Linked DNA regions of Homo sapiens. The protein of the gene in region 1 purifies or fractionates together with the protein of each later gene. This does not show direct contact. Each region holds a gene or a part of one and is shown in the gene's direction. Other genes may lie near its edges.

Evidence for each region. Proteins that work in one complex are often made in the same cells at the same time.
Region 2: the proteins of KDM3B (region 1) and LMNB2 purify together in Homo sapiens (affinity purification with mass spectrometry; one large-scale study listed by BioGRID and IntAct). This does not show direct contact.

The regions. Positions count from the first base shown.
Region 1 is NC_000005.10:138,394,065-138,397,714, forward strand, and holds part of KDM3B (lysine-specific demethylase 3B), read left to right. Parts: intron 1-3,650. UniProt on the Homo sapiens protein: Histone demethylase that specifically demethylates 'Lys-9' of histone H3, thereby playing a central role in histone code. Demethylation of Lys residue generates formaldehyde and succinate. May have tumor suppressor activity.
Region 2 is NC_000019.10:2,432,810-2,436,459, reverse strand, and holds part of LMNB2 (lamin-B2), read left to right. Parts: intron 1-1,288; coding exon 1,289-1,459; exon of another isoform or gene 1,460-1,546; coding exon 1,547-1,672; intron 1,673-1,944; coding exon 1,945-2,165; intron 2,166-2,354; coding exon 2,355-2,634; intron 2,635-3,650. UniProt on the Homo sapiens protein: Lamins are intermediate filament proteins that assemble into a filamentous meshwork, and which constitute the major components of the nuclear lamina, a fibrous layer on the nucleoplasmic side of the inner nuclear membrane.

The DNA.
Region 1 (3,650 bases):
CCTCAGAAGGTTTGGGGAGGCAGACAGTAAATAAGGAAAAAAGGCCAAGCATGATTACATGCCTTTAACTCCAGCACTTTGGGAGGCCGAAGCAGAAGGATCACTTGAGACCAGCATGGGCAACATAGTGAGACCTAGTCTCTACAGAAAATTTTAAAAATTAGCCGAGTGTGGTGGCACACACCTGTAATTCCAGCTACTCAGGAGGCTGAGGTGGGAGGATCACTTGAGCCCAGGAGGTCAAAGCTGCATTGAGCCTTGATCGTACCACTGCACTCCAGCCTTAGAAGCAAAGCGAGGCTCTCTCTAAAAGAAAAAGAAAAAATAATAAGTGATATGTCAGCTGATAATAACTATGAGAAAAATAAGGAAAGAGGATTGAAGTGTGAGGATGCTAGAGAGGCTACAGTTTTAAACAGGATGATCTGAGAAAGTGAGAGTTGAGGAACAGCCTGCAGGAGGTGAAAGAATACACCACACTGTGACAGGTATTCCAGACAGGTGCAAGCATCCCAAAGCTGGAGTATTTCTGGTGTGTCCATAAAGTTAGGTTGCTAAAATAGAATAAACAAAGAAGGAAAAGGAGTTGAGGTGAATGAGTTAATGATGGGTCCACATTTTAAAGGGCTATTCCAAAGGCCTTGGTTTTTACTCTGATGAGAAGTCATTGGAGGCCTTGAGCTGATGCGTGACACTGATTAATGTTTTAAAAGGCCACTTTGGCCACCTTTTTGAGAATAAGCTATGTAGAGGCAAGGGCAGAAGCAGAGAAGTTAGGAGGCTGTTGGAATTATCCAAGTGAGAAATGATGGGGCTTGGACCACGGAGATAGTGATGGACATGATGAGAAGTAGTTGAAGATAGAGTAGACATAATTTTCTGATGAATTAGATGTGAAGTATGAAAGAAAGGACTTAAGGATGATTCTATGTCTGGTTCTAGATATGTCTTTTGGCCTAAAAACAGGAAGAATGAGATTGCCATTTACTGATAAAGAGATTCTTTAGGGAAAAGCAGGTTTGGGGAGGAAAAGGGGGAGTTTTAACTTGGCCGTGTTAAATTTGAGATGCTTGTTAGATTTTCAAAGGAAAATACTGAGAAGGCAGCTGGGGATACAGCTCTAGAGTTAAGGGAAGGGGTCCTACCTGGAGATATAAATTTGGATATCACCAGGTATTTAAAGCTGTCAGTCTAAGTGAGATCAGAGCATAGATAAAGAAGAATAGCAGTCCAGGGACCAAACTCTGGTACTCTCCAATGTTTAGAGGTGAGAAAGATGGAAGCAACTAGTAAAGGAGACTGAGAAAGAACAGCTAGTGAAGTAGCAGGAAAACTAGGCAGTGAGGTATCCCAGAAGACAACTAAAGAAAGTATTTCCAGGAAGGAATAATGAACTGTGTCAAATGTTGCTGACTTGAATGGGGGCGGTAGCTCACGCTTGTAATCCCAGGATCTTGGGAGGCTAAGGTTGAAGGATCACTTGAGGCCAGCAGTTTGAGACCACCCTGAACGATGTAGTGAGACCCTGTCTCTACAAAAAATAATAGTAATAATAATAATTTTTTTTTTTGAGACGGAGTCTTGCCCTGTTGCCCAGGCTGGAGTGCAATGGCGTGGTCTTGGCTCACTGCAACCTCCATCTCCTGGGTTCAAGCGATTCTCCTGCCTCAGTCTCCTGAGTAGCTGGGATTATAGGTGCGCGCCACCATGCTCGGCTAATTTTTTGTATTTTTGGTAGAGACAGGGTTTCACCACATTGGCCAGGCTGGTCTTGAACTCCTAACCTGAGGTGATCCGCTTGCCTCAGCCTCCCAAAGTGCAGGGCTTATGGGTGTGAGCCACTGCACCCTGCACAAATCAATTTTTAATAAAAAAGTAAAAATGTTGCTGACAGGTCATGTTACATATGGACTAGAAGTGACTGATTTAGCAAGGTAGAATTACCTTATCAAAATAGTTTTGCTAGATTGGTAGGGGAATTGCCTGATTGTAGGGAAGAAAATAAAAGGGAAAGGAACCTATGGCAATGAGTATAGACAACTCTTCTTTTTTTTTAGATGGAGTCTTGCTGCCCAGGCTGGAGTGCAGTGGCGCAATCTTGGCTCACTGCAATCTCCGCCTCCCGGGTTCACGCCATTCTCCTGCCTCAGCCTCCCGAGTAGCTGGGACTACAGGTGCCCGCCACCACACCCAGCTAATTTTTTATATTTTTAGTAGAGACAGGGTTTCACCGTGTTAGCCAGGATGGTCTTGATCTCCTGACCTCGTGATCCGCCCGCCTCAGCCTCCCAAAGTGCTGGGATTACAGGCGTGAGCCACTGCGCCCGGCCAAGTATAGACAACTCTTTAGAGGAACTTTGCTCAAGCAGATAAATGGAGGGAGGGTATGGCTTGAGAGGATTTTTGTGGTAGAAATTGGAGCAAATTTATGTGCTGGCAGCAGTGATCTGATACAGAAGAAAATAGATGATGTTGAAAAGAGAGGAGAGATTTAGTGGAGAAATGCCTTTGGGTTGGGGAAAAGTGATAGGATGTAGTAGGAGATACTGGCCTTTGCTGGTTCAGAGCAGCGGGAACTCATGGAATACGTGGGCCAAGTTGCAGGGAAGTGTGGTAGTGTCGTGGTGGGAGCTTGTGGAGGTTGTTTTCTGGCTCCTCTTTTCTCAGTGGAATAGAAAACAAGGTCCTCACAGGGGAAGTAATATTGGAGGTATGAATAGAAGGAAGGTATGAAAATAGGCATCTAGAAGAGGGAATGTACCAAGAAACTGTATTGTGACTGTCAGGCAATATTAAGGACTCACTTGATGTAGGTAGACATGAATTTAAAGTGTTAAAAGGCCAGGCACAGTGGCTTATGCCTATAATCCCTACACTTTGGAAGGCCGAGGTGGGCGGATCGCTTAAGCCCAGGTGTTTGAAATTGGCCTGGGCAACATGGCAAGACCCTGTCTCTACAAACAGTTTTAAAAAATGAAAAATTAGGCCAGGCGCAGTGGCTCACGCCTGTAATCCCAGCACTTTGGGAGGCCGAGGCAGGTGGATCACAAGGTCGGGAGATCGAGACCATCCTGGCTTAACATGGTAAAACCCCGTCTCTACTAAAAATACAAAAACAAAATCAGCTGGGCGTGGTGGCAGGCGCCTGTAGTTCCAGCTACTGGGGAGGCTGAGGCGGGAGAATGGCATGAACCCCGGAGGAGGCGTTTGCAGTGAGCCAAGATCGCACCACTGCACTCCATCCTGGGTGGCAGAGCGAGACTCTGTCTCAAAAAAAAACTAAAAAATAAAAAATTATTTGGATGTGGTGGCATGTCCCTGTAGTCCCAGCTACTTGAGAAGCTGAGGTGGCAGGATTGTTTGAGCCCAGGAGGTCAAGGCTGCAGTGAGCTGTGATGGCACCACTGTGCTCCAGCCTGGGTAACAGAACGCAACTTTGTCTCCAAAAAATAAATAAATAAATTGTTACAATGAAAGTGGCTCTGTGTTAGCCGGGAGTGGTGTGGTTCATGCCTGTAATCCCAGCACTTTGGAAGACCGAGGCAGGCGGATCTCTTGAGGTCAGTAGTTCAAGACCAGCCTGGGCAGTAGTTCAAGACCAGCCTGGGCAACATGGCGAAACCCTGTCTCTACTAAAAATACAAAAATTA
Region 2 (3,650 bases), on another chromosome or scaffold:
TGACTGCAAAGGTGGCCAGCTTCCTTCAGAAGCGTTTCTACTGTTTTTGTTTTGTTTTGTTTTGTTTTGTTTTGTTTTTGAGATGGAGTCTTGCTCTGTTGCCCACACTGGGCCCAGCCTCCCGAGTAGCTGGGATTATAGGTGCACAGCACCACACCCAGCTAATTTTTTTCTTTTGAGACGGAGTCTTGCTCTGTCACCCAGGCTGGAGTACGGTGGCATGATCTCAGCTCACTGCAACCTCCGCCTCCTGGGTTCAAGCGATTCTCCTGCCTCAGCCTCCTGAGTAGCTGGGATTATAGGCGGGTGCCACCAACCCGACTAATTTTTGTATTTTTAGTACAGACGGGGTTTTCACCATGTTTGTCAGGCTGGTCTTGAACTTCTGACCTCATGATCCACCTGTCTTAGCCTCCCAAAGTGCTGGGATTACAGGCTTGAGCCACTGTGCCCGGCCTAATTTTTGTATTTTTAATAGAGATGGGGTTTCACCATGTTGGCTAGGCTGGTCTCGAACTCCTGACCTCGTGATCTGCCTGCCTCAGCCTCCCAAAGTGCTGGGATTACAGGCATGAGCCACCACGCCTGGCCCGCTTTCTTCAATAATGGCTTTTATAAGAGAGAGTCACTTTTTTTTTTTTTGAGACGCAGTCTCACTTTGTTACCCAGGTTGGAGTGCAATGGTGCGATCCTGGCTCACTGCAACCTCCCAAGGTCAAGCGATTCTCTTGTCTCAGCCTCCTGAGTAGCTGGGACCACAGGTGCCCGCCACCACACCTGGCTATTTTAAGTCCACCTTTTTAAAGTGTACAGTTCAGCATTGGCAGGATCTCCACAGGGTTGTGCAACCACCACCTCTAATTCTAGAACATTCCATCACCCAAAAAGAACCCCCTCCCCATCAGCAGTCCCCAGCCCTGGCCCCCACGCATCCCCTCCCTGTCTCTGTGGATGGGCCTGTCCTGGACATTTCAGGACATTTCATGGAAATGGGATCACGCACCGTGTGGCCTTTTGTGTCTGGCGTCTCTCATTGAGTGTGACGTCCTCAAGGTGCATCCATGCTGTGGCGGTGTCAGAGCCTCGCTCCTTTTCGTGGCTGAGTCACGTTCTAGCGCGTGGACGGCCCCTGGGTCGCCTCTCACCTGCACGTGTATCGGTTTGTAACTTGTGCACAAGGAACCAGGAATTGCCTGGAGGTTCCTCTTGGCACATTTTTGAGCCCTCCCTTGGGCCTGGTGCTTGGGGCCCAGGCGGGACCAGAGGGTCACGAAGCCTTGGTCCGCAGGAGGTGCGGGAGACGCGGCGGCGGCACGAGCGGCGCCTGGTGGAGGTGGACAGCAGCCGGCAGCAGGAGTACGACTTCAAGATGGCACAGGCGCTGGAGGAGCTGCGGAGCCAGCACGACGAGCAAGTGCGGCTCTACAAGCTGGAGCTGGAGCAGACCTACCAGGCCAAGGTGTGGCCGGCAGGCGGGTGGGCGGGGGCGGCCGGTGGGAACCCCGCCCCGCCCCGCGCCCGCACTCACCCGCCCGTCTCCCCACAGCTGGACAGCGCCAAGCTGAGCTCTGACCAGAACGACAAGGCGGCCAGTGCGGCTCGCGAGGAGCTGAAGGAGGCCCGCATGCGCCTGGAGTCCCTCAGCTACCAGCTCTCCGGCCTCCAGAAGCAGGTGATGAGCACAGCGCCACCGTCTGCCGTCCCCCTGGCCCAACTTCTGGGCCCTGCCCTGGATGTGCGGGGCGTGGGGCTCTGGCCTCTTGGCATCGGATGCAGCCCTCGGGGCGCCCAGCGATGCCCCTTCCCTCCCCTCCCGTGCGCCCCATGCCCAGGCCTGGTCTCTGCCCCAGTCTGTGGTGAGGGCCCATCTCCCGCAGTCCCAGGATCACCTGGGCCTTGTGACCCATGGGCTGCCCTGACCTTCGCCACCCGCCCCCTCCGCAGGCCAGTGCCGCTGAAGATCGCATTCGGGAGCTGGAGGAGGCCATGGCCGGGGAGCGGGACAAGTTCCGGAAGATGCTGGACGCCAAGGAGCAGGAGATGACGGAGATGCGGGACGTGATGCAGCAGCAGCTGGCCGAGTACCAGGAGCTGCTGGACGTGAAGCTGGCCCTGGACATGGAGATCAACGCCTACCGGAAGCTCCTGGAGGGCGAGGAGGAGAGGTGCGGCAGGCCAGGAGGCTTGGGAGCACAGAGTGAGGAGGAGGGGCAGGGCAGGAGGAGAGGCGGGACGGGGCTGCGGGGAGTGCTGGGCAGGGGTGGAGGTGGGGCCGGGCCGTGGCCGCCACTCTGCGTGCCCTGGGCTGTCTGGGGCTCCCACTACCAGTCCCACCTTCCTTGCCTTCCCCACAGGCTGAAGCTGTCCCCCAGCCCATCCTCGCGCGTCACCGTCTCACGAGCCACCTCGAGCAGCAGCGGCAGCTTGTCCGCCACCGGGCGCCTGGGCCGCAGTAAGCGGAAGCGGCTGGAGGTGGAGGAGCCCTTGGGCAGCGGCCCAAGCGTCCTGGGCACGGGCACGGGTGGCAGCGGTGGCTTCCACCTGGCCCAGCAGGCCTCGGCCTCGGGTAGCGTCAGCATCGAGGAGATCGACCTGGAGGGCAAGTTTGTGCAGCTCAAGAACAACTCGGACAAGGTGACCGGAAAGACCGGGGCATGGGGGTAACGGGGTGACCCAGCTGATGGGGGTGACCAGGGTCAGGGTGACGGGGCTGCCGGCCAATGCGAGGCAGGGGACAAGGTGACCGGAATGACCGGGGCATGGGGGTAACGGGGTGACCCAGCTGATGGGGGTGATCAGGGTCAGGGTGACGGGGCCGCCGGCCAATACGAGGCAGGGGACAAGGTGACCGGAATGACCGGGGCATGGGGGTAACGGGGTGACCCAGCTGATGGGGGTGACCAGGGTCAGGGTGACGGGGCCGTCGGCCAATGCGAGGCAGGGGACAAGGTGACCGGAATGACCGGGGCATGGGGGTAACGGGGTGACCCAGCTGATGGGGGTGACCAGGGTCAGGGTGACGGGGCTGTCGGCCAATGCGAGGCAGGGGACAAGGTGACCGGAATGACTGGGGCATGGGGGTAACGGGGTGACCCAGCTGATGGGGGTGATCAGGGTCAGGGTGACGGGGCCGCCGGCCAATACGAGGCAGGGGACAAGGTGACCGGAATGACCGGGGCATGGGGGTAACGGGGTGACCCAGCTGATGGGGGTGATCAGGGTCAGGGTGACGGGGCCGCCGGCCAATACGAGGCAGGGGACAAGGTGACCGGAAAGACCGGGGCATGGGGGTAACGGGGTGACCCAGCTGATGGGGGTGACCAGGATCAGGGTGACGGGGCCGCCGGCCAATGCGAGGCAGGGGACAAGGTGACTGGAATGACCGGGGCATGGGGGTAACGGGGTGACCCAGCTGATGGGGGTGATCAGGGTCAGGGTGACGGGGCCGCCGGCCAATGCGAGGCAGGGGACAAGGTGACCGGAAAGACCGGGGCATGGGGGTAACGGGGTGACCCAGCTGATGGGGTGACCAGGGTCAGGGTGACGGGGCCGCCGGCCAATGCGAGGCAGGGGACAAGGTGACCGGAAAGACCGGGGCATGGGGGTAACGGGGTGACCCAGCTGATGGGGTGACCAGGGTCAGGGTGACG